Linked DNA regions of Homo sapiens. The protein of the gene in region 5 interacts with the protein of the main gene of each other region in a pairwise test. Each region holds a gene or a part of one and is shown on either strand. Other genes may lie near its edges.

The links.
Region 1: the proteins of NEK7 (region 5) and TPX2 interact in binary tests that used the Homo sapiens proteins (3 or more experiments, as listed by UniProt).
Region 2: the proteins of NEK7 (region 5) and POC1A interact in binary tests that used the Homo sapiens proteins (3 or more experiments, as listed by UniProt).
Region 3: the proteins of NEK7 (region 5) and SPATA17 interact in binary tests that used the Homo sapiens proteins (3 or more experiments, as listed by UniProt).
Region 4: the proteins of NEK7 (region 5) and PSAT1 interact in binary tests that used the Homo sapiens proteins (3 or more experiments, as listed by UniProt).
Region 6: the proteins of NEK7 (region 5) and SP6 interact in binary tests that used the Homo sapiens proteins (3 or more experiments, as listed by UniProt).
Region 7: the proteins of NEK7 (region 5) and MYBPHL interact in binary tests that used the Homo sapiens proteins (3 or more experiments, as listed by UniProt).

The regions. Positions count from the first base shown.
Region 1 is NC_000020.11:31,777,290-31,780,789, reverse strand, and holds part of TPX2 (targeting protein for Xklp2), read right to left. Parts: intron 3,304-3,500; coding exon 3,152-3,303; intron 1,978-3,151; coding exon 1,806-1,977; intron 1-1,805. UniProt on the Homo sapiens protein: Spindle assembly factor required for normal assembly of mitotic spindles. Required for normal assembly of microtubules during apoptosis. Required for chromatin and/or kinetochore dependent microtubule nucleation.
Region 2 is NC_000003.12:52,147,924-52,151,423, reverse strand, and holds part of POC1A (POC1 centriolar protein homolog A), read left to right. Parts: intron 1-252; exon of another isoform or gene 253-323; coding exon 324-408; intron 409-1,436; coding exon 1,437-1,608; intron 1,609-2,034; coding exon 2,035-2,214; intron 2,215-3,500.
Region 3 is NC_000001.11:217,637,844-217,641,343, forward strand, and holds part of SPATA17 (spermatogenesis-associated protein 17), read left to right. Parts: intron 1-3,500.
Region 4 is NC_000009.12:78,314,125-78,317,624, reverse strand, and holds part of PSAT1 (phosphoserine aminotransferase), read right to left. Parts: intron 1-3,500. UniProt on the Homo sapiens protein: Involved in L-serine biosynthesis via the phosphorylated pathway, a three-step pathway converting the glycolytic intermediate 3-phospho-D-glycerate into L-serine.
Region 5 is NC_000001.11:198,292,998-198,296,497, reverse strand, and holds part of NEK7 (serine/threonine-protein kinase Nek7), read right to left. Parts: coding exon 3,459-3,500; intron 1-3,458. UniProt on the Homo sapiens protein: Protein kinase which plays an important role in mitotic cell cycle progression. Required for microtubule nucleation activity of the centrosome, robust mitotic spindle formation and cytokinesis.
Region 6 is NC_000017.11:47,844,408-47,848,163, forward strand, and holds the end of SP6 (transcription factor Sp6), read right to left. Parts: coding exon 2,892-3,756; 3' UTR 501-2,891; downstream 1-500. UniProt on the Homo sapiens protein: Promotes cell proliferation. Plays a role in tooth germ growth. Plays a role in the control of enamel mineralization. Binds the AMBN promoter.
Region 7 is NC_000001.11:109,304,212-109,308,284, forward strand, and holds the start of MYBPHL (myosin-binding protein H-like), read right to left. Parts: upstream 2,801-4,073; 5' UTR 2,781-2,800; coding exon 2,636-2,780; intron 1-2,635. UniProt on the Homo sapiens protein: Myosin-binding protein which plays a role in cardiac function. Seems to regulate conduction in the atria and ventricular conduction systems.

The DNA.
Region 1 (3,500 bases), on a different chromosome or scaffold from region 5:
AGCATCAATATTAAGACATCACCACCACTCATTGAAAATATTAATTTACCTGGCCAGTGAAACCTTGTCAATTTTCATAACTAATATAGAATGAATCTTTCAATTTAGGTCTTGTCACATAACAGTGGTAGATCAAAACCAAATCTATTTTAGAAATAAGCCATGTTTCAAAGATACATGTAACCATTATTTAGCTGTAACTGTACAAAGTTTTAAATAAAAATTGCATAATATAATTTCTCTTTCCTTTTGCCAGGACTAGTATTCTGAAAGCAGGACATATCAGACTCTGAGTCATATATTATTTGAAAAGTTATGCTTAATATTTAAATTTCCATTAGAATAAAGAAGAATATTTCATTATTTTCATACTATAAAATCTAACAAAATCATTTTGGCCACTAGAACATAATAATAATATTAAAAAATGCTGTACTTGGCCAGGCGCAGTGGCTCACACCTGTAATCACAGCACTTTGGGAGGTTGAGGCGGGCGGATCACTTGAGGCCAGGAGTTCAAGACCAGCCTGGCCAACAGAGCAAAACTTGGTCTCTACTTAAAATCCAAAAAGTAGCTGGGCATGGTGGCACACACCTGTAATCCCAGCTACTCGGGAAGCTGAGGCACGAGAATCTCTTGCACCCAAGAGGTGGACGTTGCAGTGAGTCGAGATCGCGCCACTGCACTCCAGCCTGGGTGATGACACCCAGAACGAGACTCTGTCTCAAAAAAAATGCCTATGCAAGGATATAAAAAATTTAGAGATCCTCAAAGGTAAAACAACCACATTCTGCTTTATCCAGAATACTATCCCTATACTCCCAACAACTATTTAATACCACCTCCACCCTTCAGATTTCATCTTCCTTCTTGCAGAAATTATTTCCATAAAGATAGAAACTATTACATTAGAATCCGCTCATCTGCTCACCACCAAATCTACAAACTCCCCCAGTATTTGCACCCATTCCTCCCACTCTTCCATCCTCCTTTTAAAGAACACTCACTCCACCTGTGCTAAGTATCCCTCCAATACCTGCCTGCTCAGGGACTTAATCCATTAGTTATCTCCTCTCTCTCGTACCTTCAGCTTCTTTATCTCTGACGAGACTTCTCAACATTCAGACATGCTCTCCCTATCTCCCACCTCCTTTGACTCTTGCACCTCCCTCCTCCTCAAAATCCCCTGCCATAATTTGTAGTGACCTGTTTATCTAATGACAGTTTAAGAATGCAAAGAACTAATTAGTGTATCTCTAATGACAGAGATAAATAGGTCACTACAAATTATGGTAAAGGCTTTTGAAACTTGATGTCGAGTTTTGAAACTTGAATTAGAAACCTGATGTTGAGTAGCACCAAGTCTATTTTATTTACCTCTATATACCTAACACAGTGTGCCTGGTTAGTAGTAGTAAAAATTTTGGTGGACCACTGAATAAAAAGCACATAGCCTTGAATGAATGAAATGCCTTCATTTTCTATAGGTAACTAAATGCAATGTGACACTTTGACACATGGCAAAAAAATGTCCGTTAAGGATGTGTAATGACATCTCAGGTTACCTTAACTCATTCCCCTTGGCCAATTATTGATGAGGAGGATCAAGACGGTTGATGGGTATAAGACAGACAGCTGGGTGGTTTGAAAAATTCTGAAGGATACATTTGTTGTCTGCATAGTCACACGCCATACTTTAATTGAAAAACTAGGATTTCAGCTAAAGACAAATCTGTGCCTAAGATGTAAGCAGAGGGAATGTAGGAGAGGTTCCATCCAACTGTGATACTGGTAGGAAACTTACTAATATCATCCTTCTTGCTCCTCAAATGATATCTGTTAGGGGTTCGTTTATGGAAGTCTTCAACTTGCTGTGCAAGGGGCACATATGTAGAAACTGTTTCATCAAATGTTCTTTTCTTTCCTTGGGACAGGTTGAAAGGCTTAACAATGGTACATCCCTTAGTCACTCGGGCCTGTAAAGAGAAAAGTTGTTCCCCAAATGAAATGTCACGGAAGAGCTCACATCTACCATAAGCCACATATTCGGCACAGAGGATCAATAAAAAAGGCCTGTGTAAAACCAAGATTATTATTCTGAAGTTTGTCAGTCCTTGAGCAAGGGTTATAACTAATCTGTTCTCATTAAAAAAAATTAAAAATGGAAGAAAGGATCTAGCACTTAACAAATCTTATGTTCTGGAATAGTACATAGGTAATTTCCCCCCAACCATGTCAATGTTTTGAAGGAATCCAGAGTAAGCTATCTTAGAATTGAAGACAAAAAGCACTGCAAAGAAATCTCACCCTCAACTCCACTTTAAAAAAAAAAATTGATTGGGCCTCTGGGTATGCATCAGGTCAGGCAGCTTCCTGAATCAGTGGAATCTCTCCATACATCCCCTAAAGAGACTGATGAAGAAGCCTATTCCTATTCCTTGGACCAGTAATTTTGATAAAACTGGTCTCTAATTGGAAGCAAAACCCTTCAAGGACCTGTATCTCAAAGAAAGAAGCATAACCTCAGGGTTTAAGAATGCAAATAACTAATTTCAAAAAATGATGATACTGACTACAAATGCAAGTGGAGATTATTAGTACTAGCATTTTTACTTAACGATTATTACTGATTTTGTTGGTGCTCTGGTAACAAAACTGCATGAGATTTGACTGGTCTGCCCCAACCCTATTTTTCCTATAAGATCTGTTATATTGGCCAGGCATGATGGCTCACACTTGTAATCCCAGCACTTTGGGAGGCTGAGGCAGGTGGATCGCCTGAGGTCAGGAGTTTGAGACCAGCCTGGCTAACATGGGGATACCCTGTCTCTACAAAATACAAAAATTAGCTGGGAGTGGTGGCAGGCGCCTGTAATCTCAGCTACTTGGGAGGCTGAGGCAGGAGAATTACTTGAACCCGGGAGGCGGAGGTTACAGTGAGCCGAAATCGTGCCATTGCACTCCAGCCTGGGCGACAAAAGTGAAACTCCATCTCAAAAAAAAAAAAAGATCTGTTATATTTTACACAACTTTATAGACACAAGGTTTTTTTTCTCAATTATACTATTATAAACAGTGACCACAAATGCTACACGTAAAATCCTAAATGAATATTAGTAACAGAAATGTTCATTTAGTCCATCAACTTACAGGAGATGAAGGATGCTTTCGTAGTTCAGATGTAAAGTTCACTTCCTTATATTCCTCCTGGTTCTTAGGATGTTGTTTGATTCGCTCATCTGTGCGGAAGTGGAAGTCAACTGATTTGGTGACCTGGCTCACTGATTTCTTCACAGGTTGCCCTGAGAGATGAACACAGTAAAACATACAGACAACATTAAGATAGGGAACACCAGTAAATCCCCTTTACTCCAGTCCTTTTGCTATTTCTGTCACCATGGATCTAACTTTGCTTACTATCTACCTGTAACCCAAAACTTGAAGTAGTCCTCAGGGACACTAATATATGTGTCATATTCACTGAGTACTATTAGGTTTG
Region 2 (3,500 bases), on a different chromosome or scaffold from region 5:
TTTTATTTTTTGGATTATTCATTGCTAGTGTACAGAAAGACAATTGATTTTTGTGTCTTGATTTTGTATCTTGCAACTTTGCTGAACTCATTTGTTTTTTGTTTTTGTTGAAGCATTTCCACAGTTGATGTATTAATTCAAATAGTAAAAACTATTCCTAGTAAAAACTAATCCTAAGTGGATTCCTTAGGATTTTCTTTATATAAGATCATGCCTTGAGCATTTTTAACCCTACTCCCCCGGCTGTTGTAGGAAGAGTGCTGGCCCTGGGGAAGCCCCTTCCTCACCCAGGCTTCACACATTTGACCCTGGCTCTCTCTCAGGAGGACCCCTCGCTGGAAAGGCATTTTAAGGGCCACCGAGATGCAGTTACCTGTGTGGACTTCAGTATCAACACAAAGCAGCTGGGTAAGAAGAGGCACCCTGTCTAGGTGCTAGGTTATGAGCTGAACAGGCCAAGTTTTTACCTCGGAGGGGTGGTGGGTGGGAAGCAGAGCACAAGGACTGCACAGCTTTGTCTAGACCTGCTTCTAGTCTTGCTTCTGCTTGCCAGCTCTTTGGGCACTGGGCTTCATGAGCTTCATTTTACATGCAGAGCCTGAGGGTCAGAGAGGTTAGGGGCCTTGCTAAGGCCACAGAGCTTTTGAGGGTGGGACTGGGATCTGGGTCTTTTCTGCACACCCTAGCCACCTTTTGGGTCTGTCTTTTGGTGTGGGCCCTAAACAGTGACTCCTTTTCCTTGAAGCTTTACTGATTCTGTTGCCCACAGTAATAAGGCACACCTTGTTGAAGAGCCTTGTCAGTGAGAAGGCTGTTGAGCAGAGATGGGCACCCCCCTCGACCCCACTGCTCTTATGCTGCAGCTGACTGTCCCCCTTCCTTGGTTGCATGAGGTTTCGTACACAGCTTTTATGACTGCGCTTTCTGGTTCCTGCAGAGGAGGCTTGCCCCTTCATCCTGTCATCAAGACCCTCTGATGTGTAAAGGTTAAGAGGGAACTGAAGTGATTTTTGATCAGTTTTGGGGACCTCCTTTAGGCTTCATACTGAGTTGGGCCCTCTCAATGGGAGGGGCTGGCTTCCCAGCTGGGGAGGACTTGCTCTCTGGTGCCCTCAGGATGTGTCTGGGGGGAGACCCTGGGCCCCATGGGAATGAGTTTTCCCAGAGCTCTGGATTGCAGTCCAAGGCTAGCATGGGAAGGGCCTCGGTCTTATTCCCATGTGGGTGTGCTCCTTGGAGAACTCTGGGCCACAGGCTCTCCACCTCCAGACCATACCTCGAGATGTGCTCTGCTCCATGGGAGACTTCTCACGGTCTGTTTGTGGATGCCAGGGAAGATGGAGCTGGGCCAGTTGCTCCCCCTGCCTCTCCAATGTCTTGGTGGAGGCTTGAAGCCTGTTAGAGCTGTAGGTCATAGCATCACCCACTGTCCTCAGCCAGTGGCTCCATGGACTCATGCCTCATGGTCTGGCACATGAAGCCGCAGTCACGCGCCTACCGCTTCACTGGCCACAAGGATGCCGTCACCTGTGTGAACTTCTCTCCTTCGGGACACCTGCTTGCTTCCGGCTCCCGAGACAAGACTGTCCGCATCTGGGTACCCAATGTGTGAGTCGTACACTTTGAGGAGGCTTGTTGGAGTCTGGGGCCCTGGTGCCAGAGCCATCCCCACCCAGGTCCCCTAGCTTGGCTCTGGACTGGTCACAGTGGGACTTCTACTCTGCTTTGGAAGAGGTGCCATCAGAGGCTGGGGCTGCAGTTGGAGCCCTCCCCTCAGGGTTGGAAGAGGAGTTCTGGGCTTACCCAATCTATCCCTAAAGAAATGCCACCTGATGCTGTGTTCATGTGGGTGGGGCCTAGAGATGGTGCTCTGTTCATATAGGAGAGGCTCTGGCTTTCCCTTGTGGAGACTGGGGTACTCGGGCTTGACTGACTTTGGGAGGGGTGCTTGAGGAGTAGGAGAGCTTTGATGTGCTTGTGGGCTCTCATGTCACTGTTATGGGTTTCCTTACTCTTGGATGCCTGTCCTTGTAGCAAAGGTGAGTCCACTGTGTTTCGTGCACACACAGCCACAGTGAGGAGTGTCCACTTCTGCAGTGATGGCCAGTCCTTCGTGACAGCCTCTGACGACAAGACAGTCAAAGTGTGGGCAACTCATCGCCAGAAATTCCTGTTCTCCCTGAGCCAGCATATCAACTGGGTCCGCTGTGCCAAGTGAGCATTGTTCTGTCTGGAGACCCTTGGAGGAACCCTGGGGGTTGGGGGCTGGCCCAGGGGCTGCTAGGTACCAACTTATGACCTCGGGCAAGTTACTTAGGCATTGTTTAAGCTTCCTCAGCCTCGGTTTCCTTATCTGTAAAATGGAACAATAATAGCTCCTGCATTGTAAGTTGTCGAGAAGCTTCATGGAGCTGATGCATGACATGTAAGTTAGTCCATAGTCAGCCATGATGACCCTCTGACATCTGTGTTGGCAAAGCACAAACTGGGTCAACAGGGGCCATTTATTATCAAAAACAATTAGGTACTTTCAGTACTACCATTACACATTTTCTTTTTGTTCCTTAAGACAGTTCTGCAAGCTAGGTGCATTTCCATTTTGCAGATGAGGAAATGGGGGCTCAGAACAGTAGTATCTTGTCCCAGAGCACACGGTGGGTCTGTGGCAGAGCTGGAGTTTGAACCCAACTCTCTCTGACAGTAAGGCTTGCCTACTTTCCTCTGGGATGTTCTCAGGGGATGATTTTGCTCCAGAGCTCCCAGATGGGGGCGCAGGCTTCGGAGATGGGGGGCTTAGCCTGGAGGCTAGCCTTCCTGCTGGCCAGGGAGCCAGTGCTGTGCAGACAGCGGGCCAGGTAACCCAAAGGACCTTTCAAGGTCCAAGAATTGCAGACAGATAGTCCTACTTCTAGCTTATTTCATTCCTTTCAACAGAGCTTCCCCATGGGTCAAATATCTTTGCTTCAGAGGAAGGGGTTGGGGTGCCAGGTGACATTAGGAAACCACATGAGTCAGAAGTTGGGGACTATTGAGCTGTGTTCTTCTGGGGACCCCATACAAGTTACTGTTCTCCAGGGCACCCCCATTCCTTTGTCCTGGGAGACCCCTGATGGCTCTTAGAGGCTTTATGACTAGGGTCCTGAGATCAGGAGGGGCCAGGCCAGCAAACTGGGGTGTCAAGTCCATACTGGGCCTTTGGTGGCAGTCCCCAGGACCTCATGCCTTTTGTTGGCAGATTGTGTCTTGCTGACCCGCACTTGAGTCAAATGTAGACTCGGAGGACCTGGTCCCAGAGTAATGACACTGATGGTGAGCTTTTGGCCACCTTTATGCAAATGTTGCCGGCAGGCAGTCGGCTGCATGTTGCCATGTGCTGTGCGTCAGGGGCAGTGCTGGGGCTTTATGTGCATGAGGCTGCTCTGTGCTCACTCGTGAGGCAGGCACCTTTTTTTTTTTCTTTTCTTTTTGTTTATTTATGTTTGGTTTTCCTCTAAGTCAGG
Region 3 (3,500 bases), about 19 Mb from region 5:
GCAACAGTTCAAATCCTAACTCTGTATTACTTTAGGCTTAAATGTAAACTTTTAAACTTATATTCTTACCTTACTTAAACTCTTTAGATATTAGTTTTCTCATCTGTAACAGGGATAATAATGCCTATTGATATGTTAACTAAGAAGATTAAATGATCATCTGGTATATTAGTAAGTACCCAATAAATTCATAATTATAATAGGAAATCACAACAGAAGGGTAAAGTATAAAATACATATGATCGACTCAGTGAATATCGAAAAGGTAATTGAAAAATTTTTTGGCTATTCCTAAATATTTTTCTTTTTTCATTAAAAACGTAAAAATTTTTATTGCTGTATTATATACATTAAGTATATAAACTGTGTGAAGTGTACAACTCAGTAATTTTCCATAGGTATATACCTGTCCAAACTTCAGTCAGATAAAGTTCTGCAGTGTTTGTTTTAAAATATGTTTATGAAAGAAATAAGTGTTTTAATAATAAAGAATATGTTTCTAAAACCAACAGCCAACATTAGATGTGCTGCTGGAATACAATAGAGATGGTTCCATTTAATTCAAAAGCAAAACAAAACTGCACAATAATTCTGTCTATTTACCATGCCCTGAAAGACAGATCCCTATTTGCCAACATGTTCACTGCTGGCTCATTGATGGGGAAAAAGAAAATTGAAAGTACCTTTTACTGTCTTATCAGTTTATCACTGCCCAAGTAACCTGAGCAGAAAGCCCTGTATATGTATCAAACAACTGAATATCTATTAAATAGGCAGATAAACTTCACAAGACATTTAAGGAAATGTTAGTTTGGAGGAAGGAGATTAAGCTAAGAAACCAGAACAGATGGCTACTATGGAGTTAGAACTAATGGATGAAATAGATACAAACTTCAATAAAAATGTAATGTGAACTTTTACAGAAATAAAACTAGAGGAAAAAAATACTGTAACCAATTTTTAAAAATAATAATTTTCCATTTAAAAATGTAATAGATGAATTAAAAACTAGAATAGTCACTACTGAAATATAAATATGTTAGGAAGGCAAATAAAGGAAATATCCATAAACACATGTGAATAGAAATCATGAGTAATAAGATTAATAATATGGAGGACATACCCAGAGGACTTGTTATGTGAATAATAGTTACTGCAGAATTCTGACTGGGAGTGGGGAAGAGATAGAATAATAATAAAGAAATACCCTAGAAGAAAACTTCTAAACTGAAGAAAGAGTATGGCTTAGAATAGAAAGGATTATCTGAGTCCTATATAGAATTTCCTTTAACACCTACTTCTTAGATATTATCTGGTGAACTTCCAAGAATACAGGAAAAATAATCTCATAAGATTCTATTCTGGACAGAAAATAAAAATAGTTATTTGCCAAGGAAATGAATGCCCTTTCTGCTCAACACAGGAACCCAAAAGACACAAAAACAATAATTACTAATGATTCAAGACCACAGATAAGAATTCTATCAAAGATTCATTTGGGGATTGGGATGAAAGAAAGACATTTTCAGACATGTAAAGACTCCTAGTTATGTCATCTATGTACCCTACCTGACGAAATGTACTCAAGAAAGTACTTGCCGTAATCAAGTAAAAATTAAATTGGAACAAAGATCTCAAGATAGAGGAAGAAGAGCAAAAGAAATAATAGAGACAACAATGAGCAATTCTACAATAATTTTCATTTAATTAAAAATTAAATAAGCATTATGTTACTGTGATTTACCTTATATTTAATTAAGACAAATTAATCTAGAAGAAGTAAAACAAATTAAGCTGGAAGAATGCGATTGGTACTTTAATGTCCTTTCTAGATATCTCCTTAGGCAAGTTCAAAAGTTCACTGTACATTTTCAGTCTTCCAAGTGATCATAGGCAATAGTCTTGCTATAATAATTGTCCCACTCTCACATAATAGAGGTTCTTTTTCCAGCTTCTAATATCAATTTTTTCACCACTCTTCTGACCCACATGTATGGTCTCTCAATGACATGTGCATCTTCCTCACCTTCTCACGCATCCCCCAGTCCCAAAGCCAATACCATAATGTTTCAGGTTTTTGCCGTGGCCATCAACCATTCTATCAGTTTTATTTTAAGCTTTTATAGTCAAATTAGTAAATTTATTCATCTGACTTTAGCAATCTGAGTTGTTCTTGGAACAGTCTTTCCCAACCTAAGATTATATTTATTTATAATATTTATAATTATTTATAATTTATTTATAATATTTAAAAAGTTTTGTTATATTTTTCCTTCAGTCTATGTGCAGTTGTGTTTATGTGCATGTATTGTGTGAGATAGAGGCCTAACTTTTTCTATAGAATACAGTTGTCTCAACAGCAGTTATTAAATAGTCCATCCTTTTCTTACTAGTTTTAAATGTTGAATGATAAGCAAATCAAAGGCATAAAAATTGCAAAGGAAGAAGTAAAATTGTCTTTATTTACTGACAGCATAATTATATGTGTAAAAAACTCTATACCACATACAAAAAAGGATTTAGAAGTAATAAATGAACTTAACAAGTTCGCAGGATGCAAGGGCAGTATACAGTAGTCTTTACATAACAGCAATGGACAATTATAATTTAAGACTTTGGCAATACCATTTTTAATAGCATCAAAATGCATGTCATTTGACTCAGAACTGTCACTTTTTCTATTGGCCTCATAAAAATGCTCTTATGTGTACATAAGTTGTGTGTAAGAGTATTTTATATACAGGATTATGTACAAGGGCGTTCATTAAAGTATTATTCCTAATAGGGAAAAAATAAAAATAAAAACTGTAAATAACTTGTATCTATTTGCAACTACTATGGCTAAATAAAGACAAGCATATGAGGGAAAATAAATAGCAGTTTAAAAGAGTGAAACATTTTATACATAATGACATGAACAAAATCTCTGAGACAAAATAAGGTATAAGAAAAGCCCAGATTATAGAAAATATATAATACATTTAGTGTTTTTTATGTAAAACAAATGTAAAAATACATAGAGATACAAAACTGGAATTAGATAGATCTGGAATTACACATAATAAGTGGTTAAATTTTAAAAATTGAAAGAAAGTGAGGTTGAAATAGAATCTTTTTTCTCTATGTTTTTCTGTATTATTTAACATTTTATATTGAGCATCGGTTAATCAGGTACTTATTTGTGAAATAAACAGTAGATAAATGGAGAAAGTTTGTCCTAGGGCAAAAATTTTGTTTCGAAAACAAAATTAAACATAGAAAATAAGTGGCCGTGGAAGATTTAACTAGTACAAAACTTGTCCTCTGACCGTGAAGGACTAGAAGACTCAACAAAATATATGAACAATTATTTTTAGGTATTGATACAGTAGGCAATGCAAGATTTGATCTCAAGGAGAAAGATCAGCAAATGAGATTAACAAGACAATTACCCCAGCTTTCTTTTGGAGGCAATCTCTGAACAAAATTCAAACTCTCAATAGTGTAACATTCATAGCGTC
Region 4 (3,500 bases), on a different chromosome or scaffold from region 5:
AACTATATTCAAGCAAACTGCTGTTGAAGGTGCATTAAAACAGACTTAAACACATTATTTGAAATAGACAAGATAGTCAAATGCAGTGGCTCACGCCCGTAATCCCAACACTTTGGAAGGCCGAGGCCGAAGGATCGCTTGAAGCCAGGAGTTGGAAAGCAGCCTAGGCAACATAGCAAGACCCGTCTCCATAAAAATTGAAAAATTAGTTGGGTGTGATAGCATGTGCCTATAGTCCCAGCTACTTGGGAGGCAGAGCAGGGAGGAATGCTTGAGCCCAGGGGTTCGAGGCTGCAGTGAGCTATGATCACACCAATGCACTCTAGCCTGGGTGACAGAGCGAGATCCTGTCTCCAAAAAAAATAAAGAAAGAAAATACACAAGACAAAAGCAGGGCCCATGTGAACAAGAGCATGTCATCAAGCAAGGACTAGGGTCAACCCAATTCTAGATCCCTGAGGGCCATTCAGAAAAAGGTTTAATCAGATTTTTCACTAAACATCATATCAGTCCCTCCTTGTCCAGCTTAAGCCCTAATGTAAACTCTTCTTGAGAGCCAGAACACACTTCCTTATCTCCACCAGAAGGCATCAGCAGACCCCAATCCCACCCCTACCCAGAGCGAGCTCTTCACTTCCTGAACTCCCAGAGCGCCTTGCCCATATTACCTGCATAGTTTTTTTCCACTTGCTCTTTTAAGTTTCTGTGTGCCTGTTGTTTGGCCTCTGTGGTCTTGGAAGGCTAGAAGCCCACGCTGTTCATCTTTTCTACCCACATCCTTAGCACAGTGCCTTCCAGCCAGCAGAGAGCACTGTGGCCGAGGGGTTAAAAGGACGGGCTCCCCCTCCCAGTCCTGACTCCCATTGTAGGGCAGCCACTCACTAACAGACTACCCAGAATTAGTCACCTCGGTTTTCCCATCTGGAACCGGGAGATCCACCTACCTGTGGTGGACACCTGGCATTTTATCCACCCTGCTCTTCCCAACTCCACCCTCCAGCCAGTATGCAGGTCCAGCAAGGCCCCTTGGCTCCCTGGTCTCAGAGTTCGGCATAGGACCTAACTGGGCCAATCAGGGCCTTCCCTGAGATTTTCTGAATTGGGTGTGGGGAGAAAGAGTGGGGAGAGCAGAAAAAGCGGCAGAATATTAGTGCAACTGTGAGACAGGAGATGAGAGCCCTAGGGGATCATGTTTCTAGGAAACATCTGAAGAAGGCCCATCTGAAAATGAAGCCAACATTCCCGCTGAGAGAAGCCAGGATCAGAAGTGGAGAGCAGATGGAGGAGGATTTGTGTCCCTGGTTCCAGGAAGTCCAGCTGCACCTGGGCCCTTCCCGCAGCTCAGGACCATCCCTTTCTGAACCAAGTATTTCAACTTCTTCCTGCCAGACCAACGCTTAGCACAGGGCCTGGCACGTGGCAGGTGGGCCACACAAATGGCAGTCAGTAGTCCCTTCAAACTTAAGCTGAAAATATGAAACACTGAGGAGCGGTGCATGGTTTTCCCCAGTCTGAAAACCCCTCTCCTTAAGAAGGTGCTAAAGGCTCCACGTGTACTCAGTAAAAGCTCAGGGCACAGGAGGAGAGGTCGCCCAGGGAAGACACCATCTCCCTTGAGCTGGGAGTCTGGAGGTCAGCTGCCAACTATGCCCTCTCCAGAGGTGTGAATCAAAGATCCCCTATGGGAATTGTGCAAAAATTTACTGGGAGTCAATGCTCAGCTAAGATCTAGGGTGGGGATACCCAGCTGCTTCCTCCTTTATTAACAGGAGGGGACATTATGGGGTCTGGAAAATGCTCTAACAGCCAGCAGCTTGTCACAGGGAAGCCCCCTATACCAACTGGCTCATTCACTGTCTCAAGTGGGACCCAAGGCCTGGGTGCAGTGGCTCATGCCAGCTCATGTTGGCAAAAGCCAACACCGGGCTGCCCAGAGGGGCCTTAGGCAGGGAGCAGCCAGCAGCCACAAACATCCAACAACCTCTCCTGAAGCTTCCCCAGCCTACCTCCCCAGACAGCACTGGGAAGAAAGAGCAAGAGTGGCTGCTGGCAGAAAGGGAAGGCAGGGAGGAAGAGGAAACAGCCCCTGAGAATATCCACAGCCTCAGCGGTAGCTCTCTGGCTAACGTCCAAGAAGTCAGAGGGACAAAAGAGACAGAAGAGAGAAAGTAAGAGAAGGGAATGAGTACTTCCTGAAGTCTACTGTGGCCTCAGCCTATCTTTATTGATCACAATAATCCTCGGGTTAGAGCCACCGTCATCCCATTTTCCAGATGAGGAAACTGAGGCTCAGAGAGGTTAACTTTGCCTCAAGTCATCTGGCAAGCAGCTTAAAGCCAGGACTCCAACTCTAGCCTGTCTGACTCCAAGAATGCAAGCTCTTCCCACAAGTATGCAGGCCCTCTGCTTTGCCAGGGGCTGCAGGGCTCCAGCCACTAGCTCCCCTGCGAGTGGGACTGCAGAGCTATCACCACACACCAGTGACAGTGGCCAAGTCCAGCACACAGCACACATGCACGTGGGTGTGCATTCCAGACACGAGGCTGCCCAGCCCTCTGTTCATCAGATGCTCTGCAATTCCCACTTCACTTCCAACTGCTCCTCTCCCACACCTGCAGCCTGTTCACCCCCCACCTCCACACAGAACCACAGAAACACACCCTGCCATGTGATTGAATCCAAGCAGAGCCCAGGTCACCAACAATACTTCCAGGTGACCAAGCTTCCCTTTTGCCTGAAGCTCTGTGTTAGCCCAGGGTTTCAAAGCTGACATGGGCCCTTGCTGCACTGTGGATTTGGTTTGTCTAAATCCAAAGTGCAGCAAGGCCCATGTCAGGTCCACCGTCCTAGCCAGACCTCAGTACCGACGCCTGAACCCCTAGCTGACTGCTGTGCTCACACTCGCCGCCCATGATCTCTGGCTTTCTTAATGGGATCTGAGGAGGCAAGGCCAGCAGAAAGCTCACCCACTTTTAGGGGCTGCCTGGAGCCAGCACCCATAACTTGGCTCTATGAAGCCTAAACAAGAGGCAGACAACTCAGAAGCAAGCAAGCTGTCCTGAAGACTGAAGACATCCCTGGGATAGGAGGTCCTGCCTCCCCTCCCACCCAGCCCTCTGCAGAGCACTGATGTCTAGCCCCTGTGACTCTACTTAACACAAGATAGGAGGTCCTGCCTCCCCTCCCACCCAGCCCTCTGCAGAGCACTGATGTCTAGCCCCTGTGGCTCTACTTAACACAGGATAAGAGGTCCTGCCTCCCCTCCCACCCAGCCCTCTGCAGAGCACTGATGTCTAGCCCCTGTGACTCTACTTAACACAGGATAGGAGGTCCTGCCTCCCCTCCCACCCAGCCCTCTGCAGAGCACTGATGTCTAGCCCCTGTGGCTCTACTTAACACAGGACCCTCGTGGCTTCCAGTTCTTTATTAACTCATGTTTCAACTCCCATACCGTCTAAAATCTTGAAAACACAAGGGCTCTAAAACGCTTACACAGCTTA
Region 5 (3,500 bases):
CTTCCAAATGAGATTTTTATGCAGAAAAACACGACCCAAAGGATGAACAACTTTAAAAAAGACATTATCGAATTTAAATTTATTTTAAGACAAGGTTCTAACTTGACATTTAAAGTGCAAGCAAGTACTGTGGTAAGCAGTGTTACAAACTAAAAATTCAATTTAAAATGTTCGCATCCTGTTCAAAACCTTCTAAATCTTTGAACCACAGCAGCAAGAATACAACACGGAGTGCCAGGCTGCCCCAAAGTCAGTCACCCTTTTCTACATGTGCTAATAAGTTTGATTTTGGAAGGACAATGTGTACATTCCCCAGACAGGCAGAGTGTGTGTGAAACACGCTAGTCCATGCTGTGCTACTCAGTGAGCGTCAGTGGGGACAGGACAAGCTGAAAATGGCTCTCATCTGTCTTCTGTGCTCCAGACAGAGCTTTAACTCCTTCAGAGCCTTGATGAGAAGGGGATGGGATTGGAAATCAAAACTGGAAAGTAGCTCAACACATTTTTATCTTGCCTATGTTTTACATAAAACGTGCACACAACTATATAGAAGTACCTTAGGAAGAGTTGTTTCACATGACGAGAAAAAAGTTAAAAACAATCTGAATGCCCCTAATCATATAAAACACTCTGAGAGGAAATTTCTAAAAGAACCACAATAATAATAATAATAATAATAATAATAATAATAGTGGTTTTTGTTTTAAATGCAAGGACACTTTAAGATCTTACCTTAAAAATACACTGTATATATAAACTATAGTCTCTCCGTGTTTGCAAAACCTTAAGTAAATGTACATATATTCATTATCATATTCTAGGCGTTCATTATAGTCCTTTTTCTCAGTACTGCAGAGTGTTAAAAAAAAAAAAAATCTGAATGTCCCCTAAGGAGTTAAACAGGAATAGTATATTTTCATGCATCTCCTGCTTTGACAGATGAAAAATGTCAACTGTCCTGTTTTTATTTTCAAGCTTTTGCACTATTCATCTGGTTCATTAGTGCATCTCGATGCTGCCCCTGACAGCTGCTCGCCCTCTCCTCCCAGCAGCTGAATTTTTCAGGCTAATTTGATCCTCCACACTGAGACGATCGCTAGAATGATTGACTTACTCCCTGACCTCCAGGGTCTGACTTTCCTGATTAGTATTCTGGGGGTGTCGGAGGGACGAAAGCCCACTGTCTGTCTTCGGGGCTGGTGGCAGCTCTCTTTTTTTTTGAACTGTAAGCCACCAACCTACAACCCTGTAAGGATGCAATTGCTGCGCTGAACAATAAAGGAAATGTGTAAAACCTACTTTTCCATGTAAAGGTCCGTGTAGCAAAAGCACAGCATCTTGATTTTAATTAGTAAAGTCTACTTTGTTGCATATCAATTAAAACTGTACTGCTAGTTTTTTTTTTTTTTTGAGGTTTCAGGAATATTTGAAAGTCTAATTTTCTGAGTTTAAAATACATTTTCAAAAAAGGCTTCCTACGTCTTCATTGTTAATAGTAATTTTTTAGTGGGTACAATACAAAATACGTGATGTTATGACCAATTTTTAAAAGCCAAACTGTTAGCTATTTCTATTAACAGTACATTGAAACACAACTGAAAGGAAATAGAACATAAATTTAAATTAAAGCTTTAGAAAAATTCTAGTTCTTCTAAAAGATTTGCATGGAGAAATCAAGAAAATGCGTTGAGATGAAAACTAACATTAGCATGATAATACTTTAACTCAAAATCATCCACAATACATATAACTCATGGATGTAGAAATGTCCAAAGATGTTATTTTTATTTTTGTGGCATTTTAAGTCCATACAAAAATGGGACACCGTCTCTCAAAGGCAAATTCAAAATGTGATAAATTATTTCAGTTTTGACATGAGTATGCTAAATCTAAAAGAATTATGCAAACTTCCTCTCAAAAACCACTTACTACCTCAACAGAACTTTTTCTTTTTTATTGCTAAATTTAATCTAGTTATTGGAAACCAATTTGCTGTTTACTTTTAGGGATTTGAAGAGAATATGTTGCTTTGATAATATTAGACTATGGCCTAAAGGAATCTAAGGTTAACTAAACAAATATAAAATATTTTAAATGTACAGAGTGACTAACTTTTAAACATTATAGTAACAATATAAACAATCCAGTTCTTTTTAGGATTGTACCAAATTATTAACAAAATATAACACAGTGAGCGTAATTTCTTGTAATCTCGTGCACATATAAAAACATGTTTTGTTACATTACTGACTCATAATTTTTCATAACAAAAATTATCCAAAGTATGAGTTTATTTAAGAATATTTAAAAATCCTTTCATTTTAAGTAGTTGTTAGTCACTTTAGTAGGAAGGACAAAACAAATAATTTCAGGTTCCTTAAATTAAGGAAATTTGAATCTGCAATGAATAAAATAATAAAAGATCATGACATACATTTTTAAAGAGTCAAAAAACACCTCCTAATGCTCTACTTCCAAGTAATGGTGGTACAATTAAAATAGATGATTTCATCATATATTTCATTTAATTCTGGAGGACAAGAGACAGGAAATATATATAGTAGGAAATGCATTGGTTTCTATTTATCCTCTTTAGACTTCTCTCATATACACAGAGATATGAAAATGATTCCTACACAGGGATATGAAAATGCTTCCATGTATTACATTTCCTCACTTTATTAAAACCTACTTAGATATAGACTAATTTTTAATTAACAGCTTTGACTCGAAGCCTATATTCCTAGGAAAATTATCATTCAATTAAAAAAACAAAATTACAGAAGTCACTAGCTTGAGATACTTTTATACCAACACAGATGTAAAATGTGTTACTAACATGCTTTCTTTTATCCACCCAAATTATTACAGTGCAACATTTCTAGAGGACCTACCTACATGATTCCATCTTCCTTTGATAAATGATCACCAGTAGAACAAAAGAGAGAGTATTTCACTGAGCTTTACCAATACAAATTGTTACTCATGGAAACTAAATTGATAACCTAGAAGAACTATCTGTTTGCATACTATCCTTAATGCTAAATTACACCTGTGTAAAAGTGAAATAAAATATTGATAAAAATATTTACTATACTTTCATATATTAAATCCAATCCATTATGCCACTCCTGTAATGCATGGATCAAGATTTACAGATGTTCAAACGTATATTTTTACAAATGCAAGATATAGAGAAAGGCGTTATATTAACATAAAAGTTAATGCTTTAAAAATAAACTTCTCATCAAAAGAACACAATTTAAAAATATATTAGATGTGTAGGAATGTATAGTTATTAAATTCCATTATACAAAGTTATTAACCCAACGAAAATTCTTCACAATTAAAAAGGTGATTCTTAAACATCCAGAAAAAAGTAAGTATATACTATAAGGATAGAGGAAATATACTAAGTAAAACTGCATCAATATTTGGAATTTATCAACATTACCTACCTCATATAGTAGACAGCCAAGAGACCAGATGTCAGATTTGAA
Region 6 (3,756 bases), on a different chromosome or scaffold from region 5:
GGCAGGAGCCCATCAGATAGCTCGGCTGCCTTTCATCGCCTTGTCCCTGATAAGGATCATCCTGGGTGAAGTAATCACTGCCAATCACCCCCAGCTCAGTCACAGGCAGGGGATGGACTGACATGCACCCTCTATGGGGATGGAGTGAGGGAGCCAGTGCCTGGGAAAGAGGGAACCAGTGTTCTTAGCAGGGGAAGGGAAAGAAGGGGCTTGTATGTGGAAGAGGAAAGAGATATCTAGAAACTTCTCATAACCACAGGTATGAGACCAGGGAGGGACAGCCCGGGTACCAACCCAGAGGAAGAACCTCCCTCCTTCTGTACCAGCCACCTCTGGGGCAGGATCAGACCCCAGCTCCAACCCAACTCAATAGACATGAGGCTTTCCAAGGGGCTGCAGGATCACTGGGAAGCATCCACCCCACTCTGTGGCCCAGACCTGGTCCTCACTGCTGAGGGACACTGAGTCAAAAAGGAAACAGAGCTGGAACACAAAGGAAGCATGATGTAGTTGATGACTTTATTGCATAAAAAACACAGGCTGTTTCTCCCTCCTCCTACCCCCTCAAAGTGAGTTCACAGCAGTTAAAGAAAAAATAAATTCCTACATTTTTCCTCTAGGGGGACTGCCTAGAAAGACAGGCAGCCAAGCAGCCTAGATCTATAAAAGAGGGGAGCAGAAGAAAACCTATCCAAAGCCTCTACCCGCATACCTCAGAGCTTGGGGCTTCCATTGGGGGGAGCATCTGTGTCCACCAGCAACACCCATTTGGGAGTTCCCCTTAGGATGGCCACTGGAAAAGGCTGTCTTGGTGGCACAGGGAAGGGGTGGCTGGTTTCGATGGGTGGAGGAGAAAGGCATCTTACACCCACGGTGCCCTTCCTCTTTCCCCCTCTCCACCTGGCCAGGCAACCTGCAGGCACTGCCAAATCTCCTCCTGCCCCCAACCCTCTCAGCAAGGAAGGGGATCTCTGGTTGGGTTAGCAGGAGGTAGGGAAAAGAGAAAGAAAGAAAGAACATTACTTCTTAAACTACCCCAGGCCAATGAGTTCCTCGGGAAGGTCATCCTGTCCCTTTTAAGGAGGGCCCCTTTGTATACAAACACATATTCCCACCCAGATCCCAGCCCCCACTTCCCATATAGCTCCCAGACCTTGGCTGGGCTCCAGCATCTACAAAGGAGGAAGAGATGCTGGGCCCAGATCCCAGGATCTTGGACATGGTGAATAAGATGGGGTCTCCCTGGCTAGAGACCCCAGGCTCAGTAGAGAAACACACATACATGCACACAGGTACACACAACATGCACACACATAACCTAATATTAAATAAAATACCCTTTGCTTATAACTTAAAAATCAATACACAGCTAATCTCTGCAGAGGGCTCCGGGTGAAGAAAGGGAGCGAGGGGAAGGGGGAGGGGTGTCAGAGGGACTGTAAGGCCCCTCTCTTGAGTGTGGGAAAGCCCTCCGGCTGCAAGGGCTGTGGCCTGTCAGACCCTTCCTCATATCAGCTTCTTTCCCCTCTGCCTGGCTCAGCTTCTGCTGGGCTTCTCCCCTCCCTCCTTTCCTCTCTCCCCCACCCCATGATCAGAATCAAAATGTGTTTCTAGCATCTAAAGGAGAAGGGAATGGGGACAGCTTCCTGGATGTCACCTCAGAAGGCAGAACCCCTTCCAGTGGGAGAACAACTCTTTCCTCTCCCTTCCCCTGTGAGATGAGGGGGAGGAAGGAATCCCCTAATGAACATGCTATGGCAGGGGCAAGGGAAAGACAAGGGCCAAGCTAGAGAGACAGTGGGGTTTATTTTCTTGGTGACAGCTAAAGAGATGGTCAGGTAGGCTGCAGGCCTCCACTCTGAGTGGGAACCAGTGGAGGTCCCTCTGATGAGACACCCCCAATCTGCCCTCAACCAGCCCAAGAAACCCTCTTCCTTCCATCCCTGAGGGGAAGGCAACTGGTGGGAACTACATGGATTCTACCGCTGGCTGCCTTGAAAACACACCTAGGGTAATAGATGGGGAATGTGAGACTACTGAACTTTATTTATCATAGACCAAGAATTAAGGGCTGAATCAGAGGTGGAGAGGGAAGGGGTTAGTTCCTTCCATACCCCACCAAATCCCTATCTCTCATTTTAGAAGAGGACTTCCCTACTCGCCCCCTCCATCTATCTCGGTCCTTTATCGCCAGCCCTGGCTGGGAGGCTGTCAGGAATGGCAGCCCTCTTTCCCTCTTCCTTCATGGCTCCAACAGACTGGGTCTGAAAGGGTTAATAAGGAAGCTCATCAAAGGAGTTATTTTTACAGCAACAACCCTCCAAACCAGAAAGAGACACCCCTGCCAAGGGGGACCCCCAGGCTCCCCCATCCCATCTCGGCTCTCCCTCCGGAAACCCTAGGGGCAGAAGCACTTTAAGTGGGATGAAAGGGACCCCGCCGCAGGGCGGCTCCGGAGGCGCTTTTATGTCCTGGTTCCCAGGCGCTAAGGACGTGTCCAGACAGCCACCACCAGCGCCCCGGGCCGGCCCCACTTCTCTCTGCTCCGGGGACTGGGACTTGCTGTCTCCTCTAGCCTGTCCCCGCCAGCCAGCCGCGGTACGGGTGTCCCACCCCAACCCCCCAGCCCAGGGGCGAGGGAAACTGTGAGGCAGGGGAGAACAGAGGGGCATTGCGCAGCTCCTACCGACCCAGTCAAATTCATCCTGCCTAGTAGCCCCAGAGACTAAGAACCCCTAGCGCCCCATCTCCCTGTCCCTGCACCACTTTTCCTCCTCCCTGAATAAATACGCACCTTCCCCTCTTCCTCAAGCCACCCCCAAGGACGTCAGACCTGGGGGCTCGCATCCAGTGCCCCCCGGGATACCCGCAGGGAGGCGGCACTGAGGAGCTCAGTTGGAGGGAGCCACGCTGCCCTCGGCCTCGCGTTTGCCTTTGCCCCCGGGGGGCTCCACTGCGCCGCCGGCCTTGCCCTCTCCCGAGGCCGCCCCAGCCGCCTCCTCCTTGGCGCCCTCGTGGGTTTTCATGTGCTTGGCCAGGTGGTCGCTGCGCATGAAGACGCGGCTGCAGACTGCACAGGGGAACTTCTTGGTGCCGGTGTGGGTCTGGAGGTGGCGCTGCAGCTCGTCCGAGCGCGTGAAGCGCTTGCCGCAGAAGAGCCAGTTGCACACGAAGGGACGGTCGCCGCTGTGCCAGCGCAGGTGCGCCTTCAGGTGCGACGTCTTGGCGTAGGCTTTCCCGCAGCCCGGGATGTGGCAGTTGTGCAAATGCTTCTTCTTGCCCCCATCGGGCCCACATGGAGCCCCCAGTCGCTCCGCCTCCAGACAGTTGGGGCAGCGACAGACGGTCTGGCCTGAGCTGCGGGGCACCGACCGCCGGGAGCCTTTGGGACGCGCCGCCCCGTCCAGGCTGGAATCCAGCCCTTGAGACTCCGGGGCGGCTACTTCCAAGGCCTTAGCCCCGTCGGGCGGCCCTAGGAGATGCTGCCCTCCGGCAGCTGGAAGGAGGTGGTGCGCATGCGGGTGGGGTGGCGGGGCACAAAGCTGGTGGTCTCCGACGTAGCCCCCCAAGCCCGCCTGAAGCGCCCCCGGGTGGCCAGGTGAGGTCAGCGCGCCCTGAGTGTGGGGGAGGTCCATCCAGCTGGTGCCCGGATGAAGGTCCCACCACGAGCCATCCTCCGCGCCTGGGTGAGTCGGCCTGAACCACGATTCATAATGGTGTGACATGTCCGGCTGCAGGAGCTTGGAAAAGGGGCCC
Region 7 (4,073 bases), about 89 Mb from region 5:
TGTTCATTTCTGTAATTCTGGCACCTAGAAGAGCGCCTGGCACATCATAGGCACAACCTAAATATTTGTGGAAGGAAGGAGGAGGAAAGGAAGGACGGAAGGAAGGAGGGAAGAAAGGTCACTCCTAGGCATGAGATTCAGTTTCCCATGCCTGGAAGACACAGAACAGTTCAGATTGAAAGAGAACACAGAGTCAGTTGGAGCGATGATGCTGAAGTCAGCAGATGGGCTCTTTCTCCTCCACCTCAGGGTCCCAGGGAACGCCTCTTTGCTGAGAGGCACACAGAGACCATCGTGAAGGGGAAATTGAATGCTTCTTCCAGGAGAGCTCCACTTCCGTGGAGCTCAGACTCTGAGGGGTCAGGATCTCCTATGGGAGCAGTGGGGGATTGGAGGAGGTCCTGACCCCGTGGTACTGCCCAGCAGGAGGCCGAGTGTCACATTGTCCATGGGAGGGATGCAGCTTGTTCCCCAGCCTCTCCCTGTTTTGGAAGCTCTTCTCTGGCCCCTGCCAAGCTTTGTCTCCAGGACACAGTACTCAGTGTAGTGCTGAGGACAGACATAGAACTGTTTACCAATGCTGGCCACCTACTCCTGCTTATTTAGCCATGTAGCAGGCTTGCCAAACTAAAAGCTCATTGTTGGCCATTTGCAGTTGGTTTTGATCTTGCAAATTAATTTCTATTTCTGATGCCTGCTCTAGTTCCCATGTTTTCACATGCTTCCTGTGATACTCAGTCCCAGAGCTCTCTGTAAGGAAGAGGAGTTAGGAGGAAGAAAGGCTTTGGAGCTCTCAGGGGGCTTAGGGGTCATCTAGTCCAGGCCCATGCATTGCACCCTGAAGGATCTTTGGTGGGGGTTTGGGGCTCTGTTGGCTCTCTGAACTTTTTTGTGTATTTTTCCAGGGGCAAGAGTCCACAGCTGGCATTAGATTTTCCTAGGGGTCCATATCCACCAAAAGGTTAAGACCCTGATTTGGTTCAACTCCTCAATTTACAGATGAGAAAATGGGAGTGGATTGACTTGCCTAGGGCCACAGAACAGAGCTAAGATTTGAACTCATGACTTCTTTGTTCCAAGTAGTTAACAGATGCACATATATTTTGCAAAGTATTCAAAGGTGTTCTTATTGCCAGTGACTTCTGGGATACCACTGGGTTGAGCCACTGGGTGCTAGTGGCCCTGAGGCCTGCAGTGTACAGAGCTGCTGCACACGAGAGGCTTTGGGCTGCATTTGCGGGCCCGTGACTGGGGGCTGTCAGGAGCTGGCTGCAGCCAGAGGGGAGAAGCATGGGGGAGATGAGCACTCTCCCTTGTGCTTTTGGGAAGACCAGTAGAGAGAGCTGAGGCGTCAGCAGTCCTGGCTCTCATTCTCCTGCTGCCTGTCACTTATTCTCTGGGCCTTTTAAGGGAAGAAACTGGTTTTCTGCCTCCATCACCCCAGCTTAATATATTTACACTAACTTTTGCTCCCTTCATCTTCAACGGGACAAACTTGGCCAGCTCTCTGCCCTTGACATTCAAATAGTTTCTGGAAACCTGGCCTCTCCCATGAGGATAAGAGGCAGACAGAGTCTGCTGCACAACCCTATGGAGGTAGAACGCAGCCTTCACCTCTCACTTGGAAATATTTGATCATTTATTTACATCTTAGTTTGGCCTCTTCCAAGGCACCCTGGATCATCTCAGCAATCCTTTCAACTACCCTGATAGGTAGATGTTATTAATCACCATTTTACAGAGTGAAAATGGAAACTGAGCAGTCCAGTGACTTGTCCAAGGTCACAGGGCTGTTAGAGGCGGCACTAGGAATTGAGCCTAGAGCTTTGCCTCCAAGTCTAGTATATCTTTTCCCCTGCCTCTTCCTGCCCTAGGAGTCCACGTGTTTCTTGATTGTGGTCTTTTCATCCTCTTAAGACTTTCAGGTGAGCGCCACGAAGTGGTTAGCTACAGAGGCCTCAGCCAGGGCATTCAGGGATGGGCGGCAGGAAGCTCGGGGTTGGAATTCCTCACTTGGGAACGCCTCTTTGCTGAGAGGCACACAGAGACCATCGTGAAGGGGAAATTGAATGCTTCTCCCAGGAGAGCTCCACTTCCGTGGAGCTCAGACTCTGAGGGGTCAGGATCTCCTATGGGAGCAGTGGGGGATTGGAGGAGGTCCTGACCCCGTGGTACTGCCCAGCAGGAGGCCGAGTGTCACTGTGCTGCCCCACTCTTAGCCTCCCCATTGCCATAGCATTTTATTTCCCTGTTCCTTCAGCAGACAGTCACTATCTCTTACCCCTCAGTCCCTTCCTGACTGGCCATTAGTATATCAGGTCTTCCCAGTCCCTATGACAATTTTTTAAAAGGTAAAAATATAAACAGATCATTTTTAGTCACTGTAAAGTGCCACCAACACCATCACTGACTTCTCAGCTAAAACACAAAAACTTAGCAGGGACATTTGAGCAGCAAGTTAGACTCCATCAAGGACAGGGGATGGGGGCTCTCACGAATGATCTCCAGCCTAATCACCAATCCTATAGAGTCTTTAGCTCTGCAGAAAACCTGAGGCGCCGTTCAGGAAGGTGGCGATGTCTTCCCCAACTCCCACCACCCGGCCTCCCCACCCTCCCCACCTGCCATGGGTCACCTTCTATAGGGGGCAGGAGCTGGGGAGTGGGGCTGCCAGCCCCCTGTCCAGGTGAAGCCTGGGGTGGTTCAGCATCCGCTGGGCTGGCTTCTTTCACCTTCAGCTTGGATCCTGCGGCCACCTCCGGAGCTGTGGCTGCCTCCATGCTGGGCCTTCCCAGAGGCTGAGCTCCAGCTCTAGATTTTCACTGCTGGTGATGAGGGAGGGGCTGAGCACCTGCTCCCAGGCTGGCCTCCCGGGTCCCAGCCACAGGGTTACGTAACTGGGCTGGCCCTCCCCACTCAGCTACGCCCAGCAGAAAGGCTGAAGTAGGGGTTGGGGGAGAGAGGAGGATCAGACAGCAGCCCAGAATAGCCCCAGGAGGACTGAGGTGTCCCTGTTATCTCGGGAGAGAGATGACACCCCCCACAGCACCAGGGAGGGAGAGCTTGAACACACCATCCAAAAGGGACCTCTAATTTCTGTAGGGAGGGTTGAGTGACATCTCTGCTCCTGACCTCCAGTTCATCCCGTGGGGCATTCAGGTCCCAAAGAAGGGGCCCAGGATTAGCTGACTCACAGCAACGCCTGAACTGCTCTTTCTCCCTCTGCTCCCACATTCAATGAATTGTAAAGTCTTATCAACTCGACCTTTACAGGGCCTGTCCCATCCTCCCCCGCTCCCCGGGGGCAGCGGGCACAGCGCAGTGGTAGGTGGAGACTGCACTCGCACTGGCTGCCCAGGTGCCACTTGGGGCTCTGTCACCAACTAGCTGTGTGACTCACAACACCTCACAGTCTCTCTTCAGTCTGTTTCCTCATCTGTAAAATGGAGATAATTATAACCATAGGGTCGTTGTGAGGATTAAAGAGGTAATCTCTGTAAAGTGCTTAGCAGAGTGTAGCCGACTAAGTGCTTGATAAATGTAAGCTATTTTTAGGTCAGGCCAGCACTTCCCCCTTTGAGAGCTGTCAATGGCTGCCTTGCCTATTAGATGAAGTACAAATAAAGGGAGAGGCAGCAGTGGTGGAGGGAGGCGAGCTCAGAGACCTGCGTGTGACTTCTGGCTGTACCACTCACTCACCAGCTGGGACTCTGGGCAAATGGCCGACTCGGAGTCTCAAGTCCCAGTCTATGAAACAAGGGATGATGCCATGATTGTGTTGAGGATAAAATGATACAATCTATAGGAAAGTGGCCAGCTCACAGCAGGTGCTAGTCACATACTACAGGTCCTACATGATTTCCAGACTTAGCAAACCATCTTTCTATACGTGTTGTACATGCCATGGACACTGCCACCTATCATACTCCTACCTTCTTATCTCCAGAAGCCAGCATCCCTCTGCATTTTAAAATGCTTTAATTTTAGAGCAGTTTGAGAGTCACGGCAAAGCTGAGTGGAAAGTATAGGGTTCCCACAGCCCCCTACTCACCCCTGTATTTTTTTCATGGAAA